Homo sapiens: one gene and its partners. The protein of the gene in region 4 purifies or fractionates together with the protein of the main gene of each other region. This does not show direct contact. Each region holds a gene or a part of one and is shown on either strand. Other genes may lie near its edges.

What was found.
Region 1: the proteins of FBL (region 4) and NOP58 purify together in Homo sapiens (affinity purification with mass spectrometry; 9 studies listed by BioGRID and IntAct, with this or other methods). This does not show direct contact.
Region 2: the proteins of FBL (region 4) and WDR43 purify together in Homo sapiens (affinity purification with mass spectrometry; 3 studies listed by BioGRID and IntAct, with this or other methods). This does not show direct contact.
Region 3: the proteins of FBL (region 4) and WDR36 purify together in Homo sapiens (affinity purification with mass spectrometry; 4 studies listed by BioGRID and IntAct, with this or other methods). This does not show direct contact.
Region 5: the proteins of FBL (region 4) and ZNF93 purify together in Homo sapiens (affinity purification with mass spectrometry; 3 studies listed by BioGRID and IntAct, with this or other methods). This does not show direct contact.
Region 6: the proteins of FBL (region 4) and ZNF644 purify together in Homo sapiens (affinity purification with mass spectrometry; 3 studies listed by BioGRID and IntAct, with this or other methods). This does not show direct contact.
Region 7: the proteins of FBL (region 4) and PHAX purify together in Homo sapiens (affinity purification with mass spectrometry; 4 studies listed by BioGRID and IntAct, with this or other methods). This does not show direct contact.

The regions. Positions count from the first base shown.
Region 1 is NC_000002.12:202,296,763-202,300,262, forward strand, and holds part of NOP58 (nucleolar protein 58), read left to right. Parts: intron 1-616; coding exon 617-751; intron 752-1,082; coding exon 1,083-1,144; intron 1,145-3,471; coding exon 3,472-3,500. UniProt on the Homo sapiens protein: Required for the biogenesis of box C/D snoRNAs such as U3, U8 and U14 snoRNAs. Part of the small subunit (SSU) processome, first precursor of the small eukaryotic ribosomal subunit.
Region 2 is NC_000002.12:28,911,667-28,915,166, reverse strand, and holds part of WDR43 (WD repeat-containing protein 43), read right to left. Parts: intron 2,578-3,500; coding exon 2,457-2,577; intron 1,506-2,456; exon of another isoform or gene 1,417-1,505; intron 1,099-1,416; coding exon 959-1,098; intron 1-958. UniProt on the Homo sapiens protein: Ribosome biogenesis factor that coordinates hyperactive transcription and ribogenesis. Part of the small subunit (SSU) processome, first precursor of the small eukaryotic ribosomal subunit.
Region 3 is NC_000005.10:111,095,348-111,098,847, reverse strand, and holds part of WDR36 (WD repeat-containing protein 36), read right to left. Parts: intron 1,770-3,500; coding exon 1,669-1,769; intron 127-1,668; coding exon 9-126; intron 1-8. UniProt on the Homo sapiens protein: Part of the small subunit (SSU) processome, first precursor of the small eukaryotic ribosomal subunit.
Region 4 is NC_000019.10:39,839,880-39,843,379, forward strand, and holds part of FBL (rRNA 2'-O-methyltransferase fibrillarin), read right to left. Parts: intron 909-3,500; coding exon 738-908; intron 637-737; coding exon 535-636; intron 449-534; coding exon 354-448; intron 1-353.
Region 5 is NC_000019.10:19,899,766-19,903,745, forward strand, and holds the start of ZNF93 (zinc finger protein 93), read left to right. Parts: upstream 1-1,180; 5' UTR 1,181-1,323; coding exon 1,324-1,326; intron 1,327-3,980.
Region 6 is NC_000001.11:90,980,536-90,984,035, reverse strand, and holds part of ZNF644 (zinc finger protein 644), read left to right. Parts: intron 1-1,665; 5' UTR 1,666-1,682; coding exon 1,683-1,726; intron 1,727-3,500.
Region 7 is NC_000005.10:126,599,816-126,603,746, forward strand, and holds the start of PHAX (phosphorylated adapter RNA export protein), read left to right. Parts: upstream 1-1,131; 5' UTR 1,132-1,147; coding exon 1,148-1,243; intron 1,244-3,754; coding exon 3,755-3,931. UniProt on the Homo sapiens protein: A phosphoprotein adapter involved in the XPO1-mediated U snRNA export from the nucleus.

The DNA of each region.
Region 1 (3,500 bases), on a different chromosome or scaffold from region 4:
TCACTCTGTCGCCCAGACTGGAGTGCAGTGGTGCCATCCCGGCTCACTGCAAGCTCTGCCTCCCAGGTTCACGCCATTCTCCTGCCTCAGCCTCCAGTGTAGCTGGGACTACAGGCGCCCGGCACCACACCTGGCTAATTTTTTGTATTTTTAGTAGAGACAGGGTTTCACCGTGTTAGCCAGGATGGTCTCGATCTCCTGACCTCGTGATCCACTCGCCTCGGCCTCCCAAAGTGCTGGGATTACAGGCGTGAGCCACCGCGCTCGGCCAGAACCCGCACATATTTAAGATTGTTACGAGGAAAAAGATGCACTTCTTTTCAGTGACCTCATAGCACAGAACTAATGTCACTGAGTAGAAACTAAAGTTTAAAAATATTTTTTAAAAAAACCTAGTTTGAGCTAATATTTGACATGAATTGCTGTAAAATCTTTTCAGCCACAGAAGTGTTGGTGGTGATATATGGCCATTAGATTGTGGCAAAGGTTGAAATACGATGGATGATTTGAATTGTATGATTCATAATAGTTTTATAACTCCTGATTTTAAAACATCCAAGTTATTGAGGATTTTACATCTGAACATGGAATATAGTTCTTCATGTTTTTCTATTAGATTTCTCGAATGCTGGCAGCCAAAACCGTTTTGGCTATCCGTTATGATGCTTTTGGTGAGGATTCAAGTTCTGCAATGGGAGTTGAGAACAGAGCCAAATTAGAGGCCAGGTTGAGAACTTTGGAAGACAGAGGGGTAAGAACTACATCATGCCTATTCCAGAAGTATTACTTGTCAAAAGTTAATAAACTGAGTAAATTTATTAACTTCATCTGCTAAACAGTTTTATGATACTTATTAGTATGTCTAAAGTATTCTTTTTGTGCCTACTGTTAACAATTGCTATTATTTACCAAGAATTGATGTATCCAACTGCATTTGCCATTAGGATATGCTATTCAAAATAACAAAACAAAAAATAGCAGAAATTGCTGTTTGCTGGCCCACTGATTCACTAGACTGTATAGTGTATTATAAAGAGATTATGACTTAGAAGTGTATTTGTAATTTTTCGTTTTCTTCTTAGATAAGAAAAATAAGTGGAACAGGAAAAGCATTAGCAAAAACAGAAAAATATGAACACAAAAGGTGAGTACATTTAAGTGAGGATGGGGTGAATAGTTTTTTTAAATGTTAATTATTGACAGTAATTTTTTATTGTAAACTTCACCTTGATGTGCCCATAGTTTTTTCAAATTTATTTATTTGACCAAAATTGTGTATGTTTATTGTGTGTATGTTGTTTTGGAAAATGTGCACATTGAGGAATGATTAAGTCAAGCTCATTAACATGCATTGTCTTATGTACTTTTTTTGTGGTGAGGACACCTTAAAATCTACTTAGCAATTTTCAAGAATATAATACATTGTTAGCTGTAGTTAACCATGTTGTGCACCCCTAATTTTTTTCCATGCCATTTAGTTTTCCGCATTAACTTCTACTAGTTTTCATTCATATACATATTTAATTTATTCATTTCCAGATATTGATAGTAAATTTTTTTAATCTAAAGTTCCTCTATAATATGTTCTTTATCAAAAAGTTCACTCAGCCGGGCACAGTGGCTCATGCCTGTAATCCCAGCACTTTGGGAGGCTGAGGCAGGCAGATCACCTGAGGTCAGGAGTTCAACACAGGCCTGGCCAACATGGTGAAACCCCATCTCTACTAAAAATACAAAAAATTAACTGGGTGTGGTGGCGGGCACCTGGCTGAGGCAGGAGAATTGCTTGAAACCCGGGAGGCGGAGGGTGCAGTGAGCTGAGATCGCGCCCCTGCACTCCAGCCTGGGCAACAAGAGCAAAACTCCGTCTCAAAAAAAGTTCATTCAGAGTTAATCCCTACAGAAACCTATTTTGTAAAAAGTATAAAGACAGAAAACAAGTCTAAAGATGGCTGAGGCATGACAAAGCATTCAAACTTAACTATCAGATTAACAAAAGATTTGTATGTGGAGGGGTATTTGGGTTATTATTTGAGGCAATGCTCAATGCTGGTGAGGTTGTGATGATGCAGGTAGAATGTGGCACAGCTGTTCTAGGAAGCCATTTCACAGTATGTATCAAGATTCTTCAAAATGTTCCTAGTCATTAACCCAATAAATTATACTTTCAGGAGTCATAATCCTTCAAGATTTTTTTTTTTTTTTTTTTTTTTTTTTTGAGACAGTCTGTCTCTGTTGCCAGGCTGGAGTGCAGTGGCACGATTGCGGCTCACTGCAACCTCTGACTCCCCGGTTCAAGTTATGCTCCTGCCTCAGCCTCCCGAGTAGCTAGGATTACAGGCATACACCACCACATCCAGCTAATTTTTGTATTTTTAGTAGAGTCGGGGTTTCATCATGTTGGCCAGGATGGTCTTGATCTCCTGACCTCGTGATCCGCCCGCCTTGGCCTCCCAAAGTGCTGGGATTACAGGCGTGAGCCACAGCACCCGGCCTCCTTCAAGAATTTTAATAGTAAAATCTTATAAGTGGATGAGGAGAGTAATTAATATATAGAACATTACCAATTATAAATACATATTTAAGTATAATTTAGTGTTTTCTGGAAAGAAATCAAATGTGTTTCTGTGGGCATTCACATTTTCTTTTTTGTGAATTTTCCAAGCTTTCTACAATAGCCATACATTCTGCAATATTTATAGTCTATAACTTATTATCTCTAGTTGACAAACATGGTTCTTTGTTTCTTAAATTATAAATGTCTTTAACCTAAAAAAATTAAATAGTCATTCAGCTTACAGGTCTGCTTAAAAAACAGAACATTTTTTAGCTTGTTTTGAACCAATTTTTTTAATGTTCCTGTGCAATTAGTACTTTTTACTTTAAACATATGCACTTAAAGCATCCATTCACATTTTAGGCACTCATTTCAGTATTTTCTTTCTGCTTACATTAGAACAAAAGCAAATGTTGGGTTCTATGGAATCTTTTCCATGTGCATGTATTTGTATCCTTTCTTGTTCTTGTGATCTTGTGATGAAGACTTCTATACTAAGCTTGGTTTAGATTTTTTGTTCTGCTTTTTTTTTTTTTTTTTTCCCCCATTGAGCAGTGTTCTGAAAGTTGGATGGTTCAGTTTTCACTTTCTAGTTAGGTGTGAAGACGTTTTCTCCTTTCATTTCCCCCATGCTGATTGAGTGTTTTCCTGTACCATAGTAACTACATTGATTACTAAATCAGAATTCATTTAGCTCACCACATCTCTTGAATGTGATTGACCTACTTGAAAAATATTAATACCTTTAACTTTTGGAAACTATTAGTCTTCATAAACTACCCCAAAGCCACTAAAATGAAACAACATTGTGTGCTTATGTAAGTATTATCTAATGGCATTTTCTTTATCTCTTGAGAATTATTTCAATTCCAGATACTTGTTAGAGATTTTCTAAAACTTTTTGGGTCTTTCAGTGAAGTGAAGACTTACGATCCTTCTGGTG
Region 2 (3,500 bases), on a different chromosome or scaffold from region 4:
TTAAGGAATACATATTGGATGAGTCCCACTTCTAAATGAGTATTATCTTGTATAAATTCATAGTAACTTTATATGGTGAAGAGCATGCTCAACTAATTATTACTAAGATGAGAACTGTCCATAAACAGCAAGGTGGTTTTTTTTTCAAGCCAACTTCACCATCAGATGCTGCAATAAAATCCAGGAAATTTCTTTAAAAACTTTTTGATGACTTTGTATCACCAAATTTTTTATTTTTTGAGATGGAGTTTCGCTCTGTCGCCAGGCTAGAGTGCAGTGGCGGGATCTCGGCTCACTGCAACCTCCGCCTCCTGAGTCCAAGCAATTCTCCTGCCTCAGCCTCCCGAGTAGCTGGGACTACAGGCGTGCGCCACCATGCCCGGCTAATTTTTGTATTTTTAGTAGAGACAGGGTTTCACCATGTTGGCCAGGATGATCTCGATCTCTTCACCTCGTGATCCGCCCGCCTCGGCCTCCCAAAGTGCTGGGATGACAGGCATGAGCCACGGCACCCGGCCTGATTTTTACTTTTAAAAGAGGTTTCAAAGGGAACTAGTTAATAGCAGCTACTGCAAAAAGGAGTTACTGGAAATTCTGAGACAGCCAAGCAATTTTATGCCCTCCATAAACAGACACTACTGCATTAACCCAGTGGTGCCATATATTTCAAAATCAAAGGTCTTTCTAAATTTTTTAAAAGATATTCTAAATTGCCCAACCACAGAAATGTTCAGTCCACTGTATCACTAAACAACCACAGGAGGCTTTAATACATAATGCACTTAATTTTTTCTCAGAAAGATCTGTTTTGTAGGCAGGCTCAATTTTTTATTATGACTCAATGTAAATCCAACATTAGATACAACAAATAAAGTCCCATATTCATAATTTACATTAACTACATAAGCTCTGACAGATTCTTTCAATGCTACCTCCCAAATCCAAAAGAACTACATACCAGACATTAAGTAACCGGTCATGTACTGCTCCAGATAAGAAATAAAGACCTGTAATTCCATCAAAGGGCTGGCTCTCATTAGGAGGTCTGATGGTAGTGAACATCAGTGACGAAACTGGCGTTGCATGTCCTGTGAAATGCTAGAGAAAGTTAAATCTCAGTTAGGAGAGCAGATTCAAAGCAGGGACAAAAATTAATAGTATATATTATCAAAACAAGCCATATGTGATACATATCGGAAAGGAGAGCTCCACGATGAAGTAACTGTTCAATTCAATTCTAAGCAAATAAGGTTATTTGTGCTATAATTCTCCCACTTTTTAAAAAAATCCATCTGAAAATACTGAAAATTTAGATGTTCCTTCTAACTCCCATGACCCTACCACTCCGCACCTTTGTTTCTTACATTCTTGAATTAAAGATTCACTTAATTCTATCCATTTTAAAAGGCATACTTTGGGTGCTCAGACACAGCCAAGGAATTGTAGGTCCTCATTTTACTCTCAGTGAGTCGAAACCACAATATTAAGGCATCATCACAGCACCAAATATTCCGTAAGCCCTGAGTGAAAGCTTTTTCCTCCTCCAAAAATATAATACTAAATCTCCACAGTCAAATACAGTAAGTGGACTAAATGCTGGATGTAGGCTAGAAATCAAAATTACCATAATCATCACATAGTAAAAACTTTTTTATTAAGAAAATCTTTTTTGAGCTAGGCCTGGTGGCAAGCGCCTATACTCCCAGCTACTCAGGAGGCTGAGGTGAGACATCGCTTGAGCCTGGGAGGTCAAGGCTGCAATGAGCTATGATGGCGTCACTGCAGTCCAGCCTGGGCGACAGAGAGAGACCCTGTGTCAAAATCTGTTTTGTTTTTTAAAAGGTAACTTTCTTTTTTGTGGATACATAGTTGGTGTATATAATAAAATTTAAATTTTAAAAAAACCTTGTTTCGGCTGGGCGCGGTGGCTCACGCCTGTAATCCCAACACTTTGGGAGGCCGAGGCAGGCAGATCACGAGGCCAGGAGATCGAGACCATCATAGCTAACACGGTGAAACCCTGTCTCTACTAAAAAATACAAAAAATTAGCCACGCGTGGTGGCGGGCGCCTGTAGTCCCAGCTACTCGGGAGGCTGAGGCAGGAGAATGGCGGTGAACCTGGGAGGCGGAGCTTGCAGTGAGCCGAGATCACGCCACTGCACTCCAGCCTGGGTGACAGAGTGAGACTCCATCTCAAAAAAAAAAAAAAAAAAAAAAATCTTGTTTCTTGAATATTGGTTCTGTTCATTTTTCCAATACGTTTGAAGTAGACATGTCTAGTCTCTTTAACATCAACAAATCAGATTAGGAGGCTAACTTTTATCCACTAAACTATTTGATGTACCTGACAATGAAGAATTTGTATTCTTAAAATAATATCTTATGGTTCAAACTTCTGCCTTTCTCTGTGTTTACTCTATAATTTTTATGCTTACAAATAATTTGATTCGCTCACCCTGTAGACTTCTTTGGTCTCCAAAACCCATAGTTTGATTGTTCGACCAGCTGAAAGCAACATCTTTCCATCTGGGCTGATACATAGGGAACTGACACTGCTATTGTCGCCTTTCCATTTGCTATATTGTGAAGAGAAAAAAAAGCATCTCAATACATGAGAGAAAACTTTACTCAGAGCAGAAAATAACAAAAAAACAAACTGAACAATCATTAAAAATATCGCCTCAGGTCCTGTGACAATTACATTCCCTAAAAGCTTGTGTCAGGTAACTAACCCTGGACATACTACTGTGATAAAAGCTTCATTGATTGCATTCCTTAACACAGCACAATCTCCCTTTGGCAGGCATGGGATAAAGATTCTCAACAAGTATCAGAAAATGAGTGAGTGAGAGTGATAAGAATGTAAAATGGGTAGTTGTACATCCTGTGACCCAGGAGATGAACTTTGCGAATGTCCAGGAAAGTTCCATACTGGCTAGACCTCCCCAAGCCCATCCTAACCCTACCTCAATTCTCGCTTTCTCTGGAAGGCTGGCCTTTAATTAATTCCCTTAATAACACAAACGATTTCTCTAAAGTTGCAACCCAAAAAGGTTATTTCTACCCTAAATCCACATGAATGTACCCCAATCTGACAGGTAAAAATTAATTAGGTACAAATGACTCCTTTTCACTACCTCAAATATGATTAGAAGCTGGAGTCTTTGCTGTTTGTTACTCATATTAATGCTGTCATAGGCAATAGGGAACTTGGCTATTCACTTATAAGAAGTAACAGCAGGGGCAGGGCATGGTGGCTCATGCCTCTAATCCCAGCACTTTGGGAGATTGAGGTGGGCAGATCGCCTGAGTCCAGGAGTTCGAGACCAGTCTGGGCAATACAGCGAGACCCTGACTCTACAAAAACTACAAAAATTAGCCAGGCATGGTGTAGTAGTCCCAGCTACTCTGGAGGCTGAGATGGTAGGATCGCTTGAGCCCAGGAGGCAGAGACTGCAATGAGCCAAGATCGCACCACTGCACTCCAGCCTGGGTGACA
Region 3 (3,500 bases), on a different chromosome or scaffold from region 4:
ACTCTTACCTTCTGAATATATGTGCCAAATAATAAGAATGCCATCAGTATCAACAGAGATAATGTGGTCTCCAAAGGGTTGCAAGAAATGGATTTCTGCCTTATGACCCTTAAAGGTATGTACTATCTAAAACATCGAAGTTTAAAAGAATTTCATATTATTACTCAGTCATCATGTCATATTATTCATATTATCCCAAAAACATGCTAATCCTGAGATGCTTCTGTTAAGAAATGTACCCCAACTTTTGATTATTCAAGGTTAGGATGAACACATAAATATTAAGGGACCAGGCATGTTCATCTGCTCCCTCAGCCAGTTCAACAATAAGGAAGTAAACTGTCCATTAAGAACAAAGAAATGAGACCTCTGAGGCTCTGCCTTCCATCTTGGGTTAGAGAGGAGGCATGCACACACACCTAGTTCCCTCACCCAATTCAATCAGTGCAACTACATATATCCTAGCGAGATGGTATATTCCAGAAGGCTGATCTCTAAAGACTCCATCACCAACTGGCTTTCAGATGAGATGGGAAAGGGGGATATAGGGTCTTCTTCCCCATACCCTTCTGCTTTGACAGAGATCCTTACAGTAGCTGATCCCTCCATAAGTATAGCCCCTTCTCCATGGTTTCAGTTCTCACTAGATTCCAGTAACACTGTTTCCTCTCCTTGGCCCTTTGGCCTTAGGGGTGGTAACAACTTCCTACAGTTGACAGTGTCTGACGCCTCCCCACCCCTATTTTGTTCCCCTAACCCTGACCACACCTGTGCATAAAGGTCCTTTATTAAAGTCTCCACATCTGAACCACATATAGGTTATACATATAGGATAAAGTCTCCTCATGTAAATCACATATATCTCCCTGGGAAAACTATAAACAACAATACAAAAATGAACATTTTTTCCAATTCTAAAAATCTGAACACCTTCCATTAAAGAACTCTACAGATAAGTTACCTTCCTCTGCCACAGGAAGTGATGATGAAAGACTGTGGGAACCACCTCACTCCAAGTCCCTGACAAGTACAGTGATACTATCATTTGGCTATCTTTGTACCCCCATTCCTACATTTCCTTTCATTCTAGACCATTAAGGCCAGGTCACTTCTCAAGCTAGTTGTTCCAGGACAAATTCAGAAACCAACTGGTAGATTTAGACCAGAAAAGATCTTTCCTTAGCAGTGGAGAAAACATAGAATCTAGCTTTCTCTAAACAGCGAACAGGCATCTGATTTTTAGAAAAAGAGTTATAAGCTAAGTTATACATAATAAATAACCAATCCACATAAAGTGGTGGTGCAAATATGAATTTTCTAGGAAAGTATTTTAAAACTACACTTAATAATACACATTATGTCCTATCTCAACAAATATACAAAATAGAAAACTCCTGAGATGGGAACTAACGGCATAAAAAATTTTGAAGAAGGTCTCCAAGTAATTTTGATATTCATCTCTGGCAAAGAAACTGAAGTAAAGCACCAGTTTTAAGTAAGCCTTTTCTGAAAATTTATCTTCCTCCAGAAAACTGAATATACATTAGAAAAAAAAGAATACTGTATAGTTCCAGAGTGTGCTGGGTAAAGAATGACAAAATTAAAGTTCCCTCCACTATCATGACAAACAAATACTGACTGACAAACAAGTAGTTTAGCGATACCAACCTCTTTATTACGGGCAAATGCAGAGAAAACATTTCCATAAGCAGCAAAGACTAATCTGCCATCAGCTGCCATACAGCAGATATCCTGTGGAACAGAATTACCTAGCAGAAAATACAAAATGAAAGAAACAGGGATTTTTAAGATGTTAAAGAGAAACCTCAAGTATACATATAACATTTTTCATGGCTATAATTTAAAAAAATATATAAATAAAGATCAAAGTTGAGAATCAGTGTATAAAATTTTAACTAAAATATTTTAGATATCTAATAGTAACTATCAAACTAAGGATAGGAAATCACCTTGTCCTTCCCTAAGAGAATGTCTAGGATTTGCAGAAATAAAAACATAATCCTAGAGAAATGAAAACAAGCTTTTTGAGGTTATTTGGAAAAAACTGTCATTTGAAACACAAAGCTCTGACAGATAGTCATCCAGTCTTCACGTGAACATCTTTTTTTTTTTCTTTTTTTTGAGAGACGGAGTCTTGCTGTGTCACTCAGGCTGGAGTGCAGTGATGCAATCTTGGCACACTGCAACATCCGCCTCCCAGGTTTAACTGATTCTCCTGCCTCAGCCTCCCAAGTAGCTGGGATTATAGGAGTGCACCACCACACCCGGCTAATTTTTGTATTTTTAGAAGAGACAGGGTTTTGCCATGTTAGACAGGCTGGTCTTGAACTCCTGACCTCAGGTGATCTGCCCACCTCGGCCTTCCAAAGTGCTGGGATTACAGGCGTGAGCCACATGCCTAACCCATGTGAGTATCTTCTGGAACATCAAGTTCACTAATAACTCCAGAAAAATTTTAAAAGTAACTCAAAATCTAAATCTCTAACTCTACCCTTTGGACCAACCCAAAAATATTACATATGGTATTCTATATGCCTATTCCTAAAACATTTAAAGACAATATTGTTTCTACAGTCTTCTCCAAGGGAAATATGCCTATCAATCTTTAGCATTTCTCACGTGACATATGATTCTTCTCTCAGTATCCTGGTCACACTGACCTTTTCATTTCCTCTTTTGGGGCAGGAGGGTTAGTAGACACAGGATTGTTGTACTTTTCATGCTGCAAATTCCATATTAGTATTTGTTTGCATAACCCTGTTTTATAAGTTTATCATTCACTTTTGTATTCAACTTAAGTTCCAATGCCTTTCTTCTGCCTTCTAATCTATTATTAAAATATAAGTTTAATACACATACACATTACAGTCCTTGTAGGTCTTCTGTTTCTCTCACAAGAACCATATTTGATGGTAAAACAAGTACCTCTCTGCCCTGAGAAATGTTTTATTCTATTAGATAGTTTAAAAAAAAACCCTTCCATTGGAAAGAAATACCAAAATGTGAGAAAAGGGAAAACTTCTCCTTACAGTAGAAGGAATGATGGCAAAAGAAAATCACTATAGGCTGACTATGCTTTATCTGAAATGTTTGAGACCAGAAGTGTTTCAGATTCCGGATTTTTTTGGATTTTGGACTATATGTATAACCAGGTGAATGTTCCTAATCTGAAAATCTGAAATCGGAAATGTTCCAATGAATATTTCCCTGTTAACGTCATGTTGGCTCTCAAAAAGTTTCAGACTTAGGAGCATTTTGGGTTTCAAATTTTTGGATTAAGGATAATCAACATGCATTTGGCAACCATCATACTAATAACTGATTCAGGCAAGTATCATCATAAAATATAAAAGCAGCAGGTAATAACTTTGAAGAGTACTAAGATATTTACATAGTCCCAGTGCATACTACCAAAAGATACTTATTCGTTACAAATGACAAAACACTAACTTAAAAATAGAGCCTCCTAACCAATCACT
Region 4 (3,500 bases):
CTGGAGAAGCAGATGATAAGGACGCAGCCTCCCACAGAGCTGGGAGTGGGAACAGCAAGGCCAGGGTGGCTGGAGGACACTTGGTCAGAGAGTTAGTGAAGGAGACAAAGCCAGGGGGCAGGGAGGGGGAACTGGAATGCACAGGGTCTTGGAGGCCTGAGTGAAGACTCAGGAGTCTAACTGGAAGGCCGTGGGGAGTCACAGAAGGCGGATGAGGGAGCAGACAGTGTGGTTTACATATTATGACAATCCTCCAGCTGTCACGTGCAGGACACATGGTGAGGGCAGACACAGACTACTGGCTACACCCTCAGCTGCGACCCTGGTGGCTTGGACAGGGGCCCAGTTCTCACCGAAATCGAGACTCTCTTCTCTCCATAAACTGATTCCCCAGGGACCAGGTTCTTGGTGACCAGTGCATCTTCCTTTCCTCGACAAATGAAGACACCTGGGTGAGGGGATCAGAGCAGGGGTGAGGACCCCCAGCCTCTCCCTGCCCCGAAGCTCAGCCGGCTCCCTGCCTTCCTCACTCACCCTCATGCCGATGCGGCTCCACCATCACATTCTTCCCCGACTGGTTTCCTCTTTTTCCTCCCCGACCACGACCCCGGTTGCCACCAGAATGGAAGCCTCCACCTATAAAGGAGAGGTACAACAGGAGAGAAAGATCCTGAATCTCCGCCCTCCCCACTCCCCACCTCAGGAAGGCCTCCTCTGTAACCCCTAGCCAATCTTACCACCTCTTCCTCCTCCTCCACCGCCGCCGCCGCCTCCACCTCCTCCTCGTCCACGACCTCTAAAGCCTCCGCCTCGACCTCGGCCCCCGCCAAAGCCCCCTCGGCCTCCACGACCACCACGGTCACCAAAGCCCCCTCGGCCGCCAAAGCCACCCCCACGGGGACTGAATCCTGTGGGGGAAACAAAACAGGAGTCAGGGCAATGAAGCTTAAAAGGTTAAACCACCTTGTACCCAGCAATACCTCTCAGGTGAGAAACCTGAAATACATGTGCCCGTGTACAGCAGGACACATTTCCAAGAATGTCCACAGCAAAAGAAAAGTGAAGACTAACCCAAATGTCCATCAATAGAATGGGCAAATAAAATAGAAGACATTCACAATCAAGATCATGAAAATGACCTTCAGTTATACACAACAGACTAATAAATGTTAAAATCATAATAATTTTTTTTGCTTAGTGCTTTTTTTTTGAGACAGGGTCTTGCTGTGCCGCCCAGGTTGGAGAGCAATGGCACAATCACAGCTCACCGCAGCCTCGAACTCCTGGGCTCAAGCAATTCTCCTGCCTCGGTCTCTGAAGTAGCTAGATTACAGGTGTGTGCCACTACTCCCATAGTGTAGAGATGGGGGTCTCACTATGTTGCCCAGGCTAGTCTCCAGCTCCTGGCTCAAGTGATCCTCCTGCCTTGGCCTCCTGAAGTGCTGGGATTACAGGTGTCAGGCACCACACCCAGCCACAATCATACTGCCCAAGAAAAGGAGCAAGGGAATGAGAAATGTAAAACTCATGATATTGGTGAATGGGAAGGAGATATTAATATGGGGTTGGGATAGGGGAGGAGTACATGAATAGATGTAGGTTACTGTTAATATCCTGGTTTCCTTGGTTGCATAGCAGATTCACAGAATTCATTCCATGTCAATATTAATTACTGTGAAGAGTGAGCCCTGCATACGAGCACATGCTGTGACAACAGGGCCCCCTAGACTCTGCAAACGTCTTCATACTCTCCCACTCCTGACCTTGGAGCTGGAAGAAAAGTGTCAACCCCAGCCCCAAAACAGAGGGGAATACAGGATGATGTCAGCCCTAACTCATCTCCCTGCTTCCAAGCTTAAAGAAGTCCCTCTCAGCTCAGGGGAAAAACAAGAAAAAGCAGAACAAACTGTCATTTAAGGATAGGCTGCACTTTACAAGTAGTTTGCGACTTGTCAGTAAGATCGAAATGTTTAAGAAATAACAGACTCAGACAGGCTTTATTCTTACCAGTTCAGGACAACAAACACCATTAGCACAAAACAACGTTTAAAACAGAACTCTGGTGCTAACAGATTCAATATTTTCTCTGATTTGGTTTCAAAAACTCAGAAGTACTAAATCACACAAGTTAAAAAAAATAGTTGGAAAACTAGTGGTTTAAAATTATCTCACATTCTCACATGATGTAATCTATTCAATCATAAGCTTGCTTTTTTTTTTTTTTGAGACGGAGTCTCACTCTGTCACCCAGGCTGGAGTGCAGTGACACGATCTCGGCTCACTGCAAGCTCCACCTCCCAGGTTCACGCCTTTCTCCTGCCTCAGCCTCCCCAGTAGCTGGGACTACAGGCGCCCACCACCATGCCCGGCTAATTTTTTTGTATTTTTAGTAGAGAAGGGGTTTCACCGTGTTAGCCAGGATGGTCTCAATCTCCTGACCTCTTGATCCGCCCGCCTCAGCCTCCCAAAGTGCTGGGATTACAGGCGTGAGCCAGCGCGCCCAGCCTTGCTCATGTTTTTTGTAAAGATACATTATGATCTTGTCCTACGAACCCTTCATGCACCTTAATGGTATTAAAGATAAAAAATGTGTCTTTTAACAGCCATTCCTAATTTAATCTTTAAAAATGAACGGTTTCATTTTCAAAACTCCCAAACAACCAAAAGTTGTTTACTTTTAATCTTCTACTCCCTCTACAGTCCACTTTTCACACAGCAGCTAATACATGCTATTTTTAAAACAGCAAGTAAGATCTCATCATGCCCTTGCCCAAATCCCTCCAATGGTTTTCCACCACATCCAAAATGAAATAAAAAGTCCTTTCCCTGGCTTACAAAGCCTGAAATCAAAGCCTAAAATCTTTAGGCTTTAAATTCTGATTTCATTGTTCTGGGCGCAAGGTCTTCCCCTAAAGCTCTCCAGGTGACTCCAAGGTGCAGCCCACATTGAGTATCATCATCCTAAGGATCTGGCCTGTGCTGACTTCCCTGACTTCATTCTCTTTATGCTGGGCCCCATGCTCTTCCCCACCAAGCATACACAGTCCAGCTTCTAAATCTTTACCACGTGCTGTTCCCACTGCCTGGCTCCTGCAGACATGTGCATGGCTCACTCGCTCCTTCACTGCATTCTGGTCTCTGATAAAATGTTAGTTCCCCAGAAGGGCCTACTTTGGCCACAGTACCCTTACCCTGCTTTATTTCCCTTCAAATCAATTATCACACATGGCATTTTTAATATTATTACCACCTGCCTCCCCCACTAAGATCAAGCTCCAAATGGGCAGGGATTTTTAACTGTTTTGGTCACCACCGCATCCCCAAAACCCTGCACAACATCTGGCACAAAGTATGGGCTCAATAAATGTTAAATGAGCACTGAGCTGATGACTCTTAAACCCTGGGCCCTGCCTCAAGGAGAAAGCACCCTCTATTTGTTCAGAAAGCACACAATCCATCAGATGGTGACCAGGGAAGTGCCGGTCACTCCCCTCAAGTAT
Region 5 (3,980 bases), about 20 Mb from region 4:
AAACAACAAAGTAAAGGTATGTTTAAAAAGTTTTAAAAAGCGTGTGGTCGCAGTGGCTCACGCCTGTAATCCCAGCACTTTGAGAGGCTGATGCGGGCGGATCACCCGAGGTCAGAAGTTAGAGACCAGCCTGACCAATATGAAGAAGCCCCATCTATACTAAAGACACAAAATTAGCTGGTCGTGGTGGCACATGCCTGTACTCCCAGCTACTCGGGAGGCTGAGGCAGGAGAATTGCTTGAACCTGGGAGGCAAATGTTGTAGTGAGCCAAAATCGTGCCATTGCACTCCAGCCTAGGCAGCAAGAGCAAAAACTCCATCTCAAAAAAAAAGGTTTTTTTTTAATTATAAAAATTAAAAGGGGGAAATTGTAAAATACAATAAAATTCCTCTTCAAAGGTTTAGTCTTAACTTTCTTGTTCTTTGTTCTCAAACTCAACTTGCTTGTTCTCCATGCCTCCTTGCCCCTAGTTACTGTAACAACCTTCCTTCCCAACAGCTCTAATCAATAATTCACATCTGTTCCCTTGATTACTCACTCTGCAGCCTTCCCACCCTTCAAAACCACACGTCCCACCACTGTGACTTATACATGCCCCTTCCCTTCCTTATTTGGAAAAATATTTACAAATAGCCAATCGGGTCAGTTTAGATTGTGGGGTCCGACCCTAGCCCATGGGGGAGTAACACAGAGGAAGAGACTTTACGTTAAAAATAAAAACCCCTTCCCTCCTTTGTTCAGGGTGCTCTTGCGATCGTGATTAATGCAAACAAAAACCTTTTGCAGAAGTAAATTGCCTTACTAAAAAAACTTTTGCCTGAGTACTGGTTTCACTTTGCGACACCAAACACTTTACTTCCAACGGTATTATTAATATGACAACGAAATACTTCTGTTCACCTTTTCAATACATTCAAAAAGAGAGAGTAAAAAAGAGAATGTTCCCATGCTCTGGGGTGGACGTGGCTCAGCTCAGAGAGGAAGCCCTGGCTGAAAAGGCTGCAGCTTAGGCTGTTACTCTTCTTCACTCAGCCCAGCATGTGATCACATCTTCTGTCACTCAGGTCCTGAGGGGGCGGGACCTTAAGAATTATCCAATCAGGGACGCTGGGCTGGAAACGTCCAATCAGGCAAGCAGCCGGACCGAACAGGGCGGCTTCTGGTTTGGCGGGTCCTTTGTCTCTCGGTGCAGCCGGAGCTCCAGGTCTCCTCTTCACTACTCTGTGTCCTGTGCTCCTACAGGCCCAGCCTCTGTGGCCCTGTGACCTGCAGGTATTGGGAGATCCACAGCTAAGACACCAGGACCCCTGGAAGCCTAGAAATGGTGAGAGTGCCGGTCCGACATCCCAAGCGACGGGGAGGGGCTGGTTGGAACCGGTGGAAAGTGACGGTGGCGGGACTCAGGTATCCCCTTAGTCAGCTCCACAATCTGCGCCGGAGTTCTTGCCCAGCTCGGCCTCGGTTCCCTTCAGCCATAAGATGGCGGCTGCGCTTATAGCGCAGCCCCCAGGCGTCCTGTCTCTTCACTGTGCGGTGACTGTGCCCTGGCTTGGAGCCCTCGCTGGGCAGCTGCGCACCCGCAGAGCCGCTTCTCTCCCAGATTGTGCAGAGACCACGGGAGAGTCGTCAGGGGAGAATCCTGACTCGGAGTGCGGGTTCACGAATGGGAAGAGCTTTAGTGGGTTGGGTTCACAGTTTCTCTTTTCTCCTATTAAAAATTTATGGGGCTGGGCAAGGTGGCTCACTCCTGTAATCGCAGCAGTTTGGGAGGCCGAGGCGGGCGGATCACTTGAGGAGTTGTTAGGGCAGCTAAGTTCCTCTTCAGAGACTCAACTTCCTGGTCATAAGTTGTAAAAATTGTAAATCAACCCTACCCCTTCTTTTTCCCCATTCTCCTTTTCTCAAAACATCGCGCGTTTACCCTATATGGAAAAAGTTTGTGTCTAGCCCAACCAGGATCAGCTTAGATTGTGCGGTGGGACCTCAGCCAATATGGGAAGGACACAAAAACCGGAACTGCGTTAGGGTTAAATCCCCTTCCTGGCCCAGCGCGGTGGCTGATGCCTGTAATCCCAGCACTTTGTGAGGCCGTGGCGGGTGGATCACAAGGTCAGGAGTTCTAGGCCAGCCTGGCCAACATAGTGAAACCCCGTCTCTACTAAAAATACAAAAATTAGCCGGGATTGGTGGCAGGCGTCTGTAATCCCAGCTACTTGGGAGGCTGACGCACGAGAATTGCTTGAACCTGGGAGGCGAGGTGCAGTGAGCCGAGAGCTTGCCATTGTACTCCAGCCTTGGTGACAAAGTGAGACTCCGTCTTAAAAAAAAAATAGACATCTTAAAATTTCCTTCCCTTATGTAAATACTGTGTTTGAGTAATTTCACGGATTTTTCAAACACTGAGTTTCAAAAACCAAGTGAATAACTCTGACATGACAAAGCTTGAGCCTAGTGACTCCAAGCTAAGGCTAATATTAAGCCTAAAACAGAAGGTTTTTTTTTTGGACAGAGTTTTGCGTTTTGCTCTTGTTGCCCAGGTGGAGTACAGTGGCGCAATCATGGCTCACTGAAATCTCCACCTCCTGGGTTCAAGCGATTCTCCTGCCTCAGCCTCTCAAGTAGCTGGGATTACAGGCATGCACCATCATGCTTGGCTGATTTTGTGTTTTTAGTAGAGACGGGTTTTCTCCATGTTGGTCAGGCTGGTCTCGAGCTCCCGGCCTCTGGTGATCTGCCTGCCTTGGCCTCCTGAAGTGCTGGGATTACAGGCATGAGCCACAGGGCCCAGCCAACAGGAGTTTATAAAGTCCTATTTAGCTTTTTCTGGGGAGCCTCCCCTGCAGATGTCCCAGCCTATTCACCGGAGCCATGGAAGGAGGCGTTATTCTGAGAGAAGGTACAGAGCCCCAGAAAGCTGGGGCCCCACAAGCAGATGCAGTTAAGGTTAAGATGAAAGGAAACTGGGAGGATCTTTTTTTTTTTTTTTTGAGATGGAGTCTCGCTCTGTCGCCCAGGCTGGAGTGCAGTGGTGCGATCTCGACTCACTGCAAGCTCCGCCTCCCGGGTTCACGCCATTCTCCTGCCTGAGCCTCCCGAGTAGCTGGGACTACAGGCACCCACCACCACGCCCGGCTAATTAAAAAAAATTTTTTTAATAGAGACGGGGTTTCACCGTGTGAGCCAGGATGGTCTCGATCTCATGACCTCATGGTCCACCCGCCTCGGCCTCCCAAAGTGCTGGGATTACAGGCGTGAGCCACCGCGCCCGGCCTTTGGGAGGATCTTACTGACGATGAAGTTGTTATTGTTTTGAGGAACATTTTAGACTTTGTAAAATAAAAACGTTAATTTATGTAAAAGATGAATTTCAAAAAAGTATTACAACAGGAGGAAGTACCAACTAACTCTAAAATCTTTATGGCTTGCAAAAATGTAGGCAGAAAAGGGCTTTTCTCCCTAGGGAGGAGCAAACAAGATTAGAAAGGAGGTGGGAGGGGAATGGCAAATGGAGGGTGAAAAAGTCAGATTTTACATCAGAGAATGTCTTACCCTGAAATCAGCATGTTCTTAGGAGGGATGTAAAGTGGGGCTGTATGTTGACTCAGAGTGAGGGTAGCTCAAAGTTCAGGAGCCTGAGGAAGGGAGATAAACCTAAGTAAAGTTTGATTAGGAAATATTTTATTTTAGGCCTGGCCCGGTGGCTTATGCCTTTGGGAGGCCAGCACTGGGATTACCAGTGCTGGTAATCCCAGCACTTTGGGAGGCCAAGGCGGACAGGTCACGAGGTCAGGAGATCGAGACCATCCTGGCCAACGTGGTGAAACTCCATCGTTACTAAAAATACAAAAATTAACTCAGCATGTTGGCGCCCACCTGTATTCCCAGCTACTCAGGAGGCTGAGGCAGGAGAATCGCTAGAACCCGAGAAGCAGAGGTTGCAGTGAGCCAGATCAAGCCACAGCACTCCAGCTTGGCGAC
Region 6 (3,500 bases), on a different chromosome or scaffold from region 4:
GATACTGGTGGGTGCTGGCATTCCTGGCTATGGCCCATGTCCTTCCAGTCTACGAAAGCAGCATTTTCAGTTCTCTCTGCCATGTCTTCTTCTTCTTCCTCTTTTTTGGAGACAGAGTCTTGCTCTGTTGCCTAGGCTGGATGCAGCGACGTGATCTTGGCTCATTGCAACCTCCGCTTCCTGAGTTCAAGCAAGATTATCCTGCCTCAGCCTCCTGAGTAGTTGGGACTACGGGCGCGTGCCACCACGCCCAGCTAACTTTTGTATTTTTAGTAGAGACGGGGTTTCACCATGTTGGCCAGGCTGGTTTCGAACTCCTGACCTCAGGTGATCTGCCCACCTTGGCCTCCCAAAGTGCTGGGATTACAGGTGTGAGCCACTGTGCCCGGCCTCTCCGCTTGTCTTCTCATTGCCTTCAGTGTGTGTCTCGTTCTTATAAGGATACATGTGATTGCACTGTGGTCCACCCAGATAATTCGGAATAATCCTCCCTCTCAAGATCCTTAATTTAATCATATCTACAAAGACTTCTTCTTTTTTTTTTTTTTTTTTTTGCCATATGAGGTAACATTGTCAGATTTCAGGGATCAGGGTGTGGAAGTCTTTTGTGGGGCAATAGTTCAGCTTATCCCACTCAGTCGTTTATAATAGACTTTTAATGTTCTTACTTTTATTTTATAGTTTAGTTTTTAACAGGCCCCCATGTCCACTTCTGGGTTGGTGGGAGATGATGGCATTGGGTGGCAGAGAAAATATCTCATCTTTTCTAGATACGATGCAGAAAATTCTAGGTCTGTGGTTCTAGGAAGGACAAATCAGAGATGATAGTTTGGAAATAAAACAGTTAAAGTAACCTAGCTTGAGAACAGAGGTAGGTGTGGTGGTGCTATTTTTTAAAGAATAGAGAATTTAGAAGAGTCACAAGCTAGTTTCAGGTATGGGGAGGAGGAGATATGTAGAGTGTGGGACATACTGAGTTTTCAGAAGTTCTGAAATATGGTAAAATTAGTAATGGTGGATATATTTTTGGCAAATGCATGTTCAGTGGATTGTTGGTGTAGAAGTCACTTTATACTAGATTAAAGATTAAATTGAAGATGGGGAGTATTGATACATTCTATTCTCTAGAATAATGATGCTTGGCATTTAGTAAGTAATCAGTGTTGGCTATTATGATAATTACTGTGGTTGCTCTAACAAATTACTTTGTTATATACTTTTATGTGTATATACTTTTATGTGTTCCAATACTATAACATTTTTGTCTTCAGCTGTTTGGTGTGTGTCTTGATATGTACATAATATTAAATAAATACTGATCTAGAAAGATGTGTGTTTTAGTAATTATTTTAATTATTGCCATTGCCATACTATTAAAATTAATGAAAACAATTTAGAATTTTTTTTAAAAAAAAGAATTAGTTTCAATTTCTCATTTGAATAGATTATTATTTCTCAAAAAAAGCAGTGAGGTTGGGGGGCACTTAGCAATAGTTTCCTAAAGATTAAAATGATGGTATTCTGGTTGAATGGTTTTTTTATGTTATATCAAGAAATATAATTTGGTTTGTGTTTTTTCATTTAAAATAATAGTGTATTGTAGCTATGGTTATTCATGCCTGAAACAAAAAATTAAACCTTGGTCATTGTGTGTATTTCTTTCAGGTTTGATTTAATTTTGGATGAGATCGTTCTTGCAGCAAGATGTTAATAAGACAAAATCTAGGTAAGTAGAAGACTGCTTTGTTAAATGTACATATCAAGGTAGGAATAATACAAAAAAATTATGTCTTAAAAATGTGGTGTTGAGTTCAGAACCAAAGAGTTTTTAAATAAAATTTTGAAATGCAAATAATTGACTTTTTGACACACTTGGTCCAGTTGATTTGATGGGAGTAAAATTATAACTATCACATTGTGGAACTAAATTTTTAGTTTCCTTCTTTTGTGTTGAGGTTAACTAAAGCATTCAAGTTTCCAGTGAATATTCTAAAATGTTAGAAAATCAAGTTAATGTTTGGTTCAGCCACTCTTATTGAACTCTGACCACTTCAGTAAGACATTTATTGTGTCACTTCATTGTTCTCTCCTTTGTTGATAAAGTATATGAATAGTCATTGCTTTTGTGAATTTTGCTTCATTTTTAATGTTAAGGAAGCACTTTCCCAAATGGGATAAATTTGCCAAATTGTGATTTCTTTCTGTTAATATAGTATTCAAAATTGTAAATTATTGTTTTAATGTTTTCCTAGTGGGTGTCTCTACTGAATGACCTCTCTAATATAGCATTCTGATTAGCTTTCTAAGGCTGTTCACTTTTAAAAAATTGAATTGGCATCATGTACTTTGGTATGTGAAAGAATGCTTTTTAATAATATAAGCCGTTGACATGTTTTAAAAAGATACATTTACTATTTATTGGTAAGTGAATATGGCTTCAAAATGGAAACAAGGGAAAAAGAACATTGAAAAAATTGGAGTTAACTTGGTTTTCCCTCTAACCAGATGTTTCAGCTGTCAAAAATTTGCTGATCTCAATGTTTGTTAAAGAAAAAAAAAGTCTAGGATGAAAAGTGCTGTAGTTCAGTAATATGCACTGAAGGAAATCTCAGTCAGTGGTTTGGGCATGTTTTGAAGCAAAATTTTGCTTTTATTGCTATTATATAATAATAACAGTAGTGGTAGTTTGAAGAGTACTTATTGTGCTCTAAATTCTGTTAAGTGCTTGTCATACCTTATTGATCGTTATAGTACCTCCTCTTGTTGTGTAGAAAAATTTTATTTTTTGCTTTATAGTGGGCTGTTTTTCTTTAGGAATAATAATTTACTTCTGTAGCATTTATTAGAAATAACACTTGCCTATGTATCTTCTTAAAGTGGAGAAGAAGCCATTCTTTTGTACTTGAAGGTCTTATTAGGGTTTGTTTTCTAGTTGAATATACAGTGTCTGTTAAAACTTTTGTTCTGATTTTCTATGTTTGATATTGCTTGTGGGATGACACTGGTTTAACTTATTCTGACCTTATTTTTCACCATGCTTATATATGTAGTTTTTTCTTTTTTATTATGGTATAGTTTACATATATATGGTAACATAAAATTTGAGGTATAGAGCTGAATGACTTTTCACATACACATTCATATGTGTAACCACCATCTAGATCAAGATATAGAACATTTCATTACTTTGGAAAGTTCCTTGTGCTTTCCCCGCTTCCAGTCTAATAGCCTTTTCCCCTGAAGTAATCATCTTTCTGAATTCTGTCAGCATAATTTAGTTTTGCCTGTTCTTGGATTTTATATATAGTATGTACTCTTGTATGTGGCTTTTTCATTCAACATAATGTTCTTGAGCTTCATCTATGTTGTGACTATGTCAGCAGTTCATTATTTTTTATTGCTGTTTTATTTTTAGTAATATTCCATTGTATGAACACACTACAAAGTATTTATGTTTTCTCAGTGATTTGGTTTATTGGATTCTCCATATCTCTGTTCCT
Region 7 (3,931 bases), on a different chromosome or scaffold from region 4:
CTTCAAAAACTTTCCTCCCCGTCTAATTAGGAATAAATAGTAACTTCTCTTAAAAGCAAAATTTATTCAAAGATCTGTGCTAACATTCTTAAATATCTGCTAGCCATAATAAAAAAAAATGTACTTTATGTTCTTAGCTCCCACAATTTAGCCTAAATATTTGCCCTGGCATGCTTTTACTAGTCCAAGCAAGCATTAGGTCATAGCCTGTTCCTCTTCCTTATTTAAAAGTGTTTTCATCTTTCTCAGCATTCCACAAGTTACTTCCTCCTTCCTTTGTTCTCCTCTACCTTTGCCTCTTTTAAAAAGTTCTAAGTTGCTAGCCAATCGGGACAAATACAAAATGTGAGGTCCGGTCCAGCCAATAAAAACCAGCCACAGCAGTAAGGTAAACACGTCAGGTTATAAATGACCCTGTCTCCTTTTGTTCAGTGTACTCTCCTGGCAAAACTGCTGGCGAGTGTACCCTTTCTGCAGAAAGTAAAAATGGCCTTATTCAGTAAGTTAAATTTATGTTGCTATTTCTTTACGACACCGGAAAACAAACATTTCAAACACCATGCTGAGAACTCAGTCCTTGTTTTGGGGAGGGATGCACTTGGAAGATTCGAGCTAAGGTACAATCCTCCCTAGGTATCCGCGGGTCATTGTTTTCAGGACCCCCACAGATACCAACATCCGCCATGCTCAAGCCCCTTACATTATGTGGGGGTGCACGGTGGGTCCTTCCCATCCGCAGGTTCGGCATCCGTGGATGGGGAGTGGATACAGAGGGCGGACTATACAGCTTGAAAGGCTTCCCTGGAAGCAATATGTAGAGTGGATTGTGGAGGAGCAAGAACAGAAGCGGGGAGGCTTGTCCAGAGCATACAGGGGAAGGATGTACGGCCAAGGGAGGAATCCCAGACGACCGCGATACGTGACATATTTATGTTTGCACGAAAATAAAGTTTGGAAGAAAAGTGTTGGGGGAACAAGGGATTCATTTTCCCGGGGTAGTTGGAATGCAATGGGACGCCTCAGGCCGCTGGGACAGGCTGGCCTCCGCGCGGGGGCGCCCGAGCAGCCGAGCCGCCGGGCCTTCCGGCTGCCCCGCCGGAAGTGCTCTCCTGACCCGCCGCTGTGCAGCGCAGCGCACCGCGGGAAGATGGCGTTGGAGGTCGGCGATATGGAAGATGGGCAGCTTTCCGACTCGGATTCCGACATGACGGTCGCACCCAGCGACAGGCCGCTGCAATTGCCAGTGAGTGTGAAAGGAGGGTGGGTGATCGTGGCTGGGCGCGCGGAGCCTGGGCCCCGGGGAGCGCGCAGGCAGCGGTGAGGGTGAGGGGTGGGAGCTAGGAGCCCGGGCCAGAGCGAGGAGCCCAGGCTGTCGGGTCAGTGGCCGCAGAAGGGGCGAGCAGACGTCCCCCAGGCGGGCTCACGGAGCCCGGGCTGCGGGGGCCGAGGGGCGAGGGGCGACGGCGGCAGCGGCAGCGGCTGGCCGTGCGAACCCCGAACTGGCTGCTCCCTGCGAGGCGGGGCGCGCGAGCCCTGGCGCCTCCTGGAGGCCGGCTTGCGGCGGCCTCTTAGACGTCTCACCTCCGCCTACCGCTCTTTCTTTTCTAAACTTGGGGCTTCCCCACTCCATCGCCGCTAGGTAACCATAAAGGGGCAGATTTTGCCAAATATGTAGCATCTAGGGACATCAGCCTGAAACAGCCTGTGATGCTCATTTTCTCCCTGAGCCGAAGGGAGACTGAGGCCCAGGAATGAAGTTTATCGCTCACTCAAAGATCTGGTTTTCCATGTTTCCACCGAACCTAGCTTTGTCATGCGGTACCATGGCACTAGGCTTTTGCATTAGCCTCTCTGATTTTGTTTGTTGTTTTGAGGTGGTCTCACGCTGTTGCCCAGGCTGGAGTGCAGTGGCGCGATCTCGGCTCACTGCAACCTCCGCCTCCCGGGTTCAAGCGATTCTCCTGCCTCAGCCTCCCGAGTAGCTGGGATTACATGCGCCCGCTGCCACGCCCGGTTAATTTTTGTATTTTTGGTAGACGCGGGGTTTCACCATGTTGCCCAGGCTGGTCTCGAACTCCTGACCTCAAGTGATCGGCCTGCCTCGGCCTCCAAAAGTGCTGAGATTACAGGTGTGAACCACGGCGCCCGGCCACATCCAGCTAATTTTGTATTTTTAGTTGAGACGAGATTTCTCCATGTTGGTCAGGCTGGTCTCGAACTCCCAACCTCAGGTGATCCGCCCGCCTCGGCCTCCCAAAGTGTTGGGATTACAGGCGTGAGCCACCTCGCCCGGCCTAATTTTTGTATTTTTAGTAGAGACGGGGGTTCTCCATGTTGGCCAGGCTGGTCTTGAACTTCCGACCTCAAGTGATCCACCCGCCTCGGCCTCCCAAAGTGCTGGGACTACAGGCGCGAGCCACCGCGCCCGGCCCAGCTTCCCTGCTTTCTAAACGGGAATTTGTCTTGACTGCCTTGGTAGGTAGCAACCTCTTTGAGAGGGCGTTGGTGCCAGGCTGCCTGTGTTCAGATCCTGGGGCCACCGATGTGTGACCTACAGCAGGTTTATTTAGCCTCACTGCTTTTTGTCTACCTCTGTGGAATTGGCATGATGTACCACTGATAGGGTTATTGCAAGGATTCTGTGGAGCATACAGTGTGCAGTAATGCCTGGTAAGTGTTATCTCTGATTATTATTTGAAGATAGGAAGATAGATAGTCCCAACTTCCATTTCTAGCGTAGTAGGAGTTTAACAAAGACAAATACTTGCTTTTGCATATAAATGTTTAGGAAATTAGTACCAAGATATTTTGTTTTTCAATCTCAGGTTGTTTTTACATAAATTGACCCATGACTTGGTAAATAAACTTAATGCCGTGGACTCTGGGGTTTTAAAAATATCTTGCCCAGGCTGGGCGCGGTGGCTCACGCCTGTAATCCCAGCACTTTGGGAGGCCGAGGCGGGTGGATCACGAGGTCAGGAGATCGAGACCATCCTGGCTAACGCGGTGAAACCCCCTCTCTACTAAAAATACAAAAAAATTAGCTGGGCGTGGTGGCGGGCGCCTGTAGTCCCAGCTACTCCGGAGGCTGAGGCAGGAGAATGGTGTGAACCCGGGAGGCGGAGCTTGCAGTGAGCCGAGATCGCGCCACTGCACTCCAGCCTGGGTGACAGAGCAAGACTCCCATCTCAAGAAAAAAAAAAAAAATACATGCCCAGCCTGGGCAACTTGGCAAGACCCCGTCTCTACCAAAAAATGCAAAAAAAAAAAAAAAATAGCTGGGTATGGTGAAGGTTGCCTGTAGTCCCAGTCCCTCAGGAGGCTGAGGTAGGAGGATCGCTTGAGCCTGAGAGGTGGTGAGCCATGATAGCTCCACTGCACTCCAGCCTCGGCCACAGAACAAAACTTTGTCTCAAAAAAAAAAAGTAACAATTATTATGTATGTCATTTTAAAACATTCTGACAGTAACTGAAAAGTTTGAAATCTTTTAAAGGTGACAAGAGCTTTGGTAATATAGTAGAAGGAGATCTTAGAACAAAGTGCTGCATTAGTTGTAAAGATAAGAATTTGTGGCTTTTAAATTGGCAAATTCCATGTGGAACTTAGAAAAGTAGGAACTTGATTGGTCTCAGATTTGTCTTTGAAGATCAGTTCCATTTTGGAATGGCAAAGTTGAATCTCTAAATTTTTAAAAATTAGGTAGGTGGAGTTTATGTGTTTTGTGAAATTGATTGTGTTTCTTTTCACTTGCAGAAAGTGCTAGGTGGCGACAGTGCTATGAGGGCCTTCCAGAACACGGCAACTGCATGTGCACCAGTATCACATTATCGAGCTGTTGAAAGTGTGGATTCAAGTGAAGAAAGTTTTTCTGATTCAGATGATGATAGCTGTCTTTGGAAACGCAAACGACAGAAATGTTTTAACCCTCCT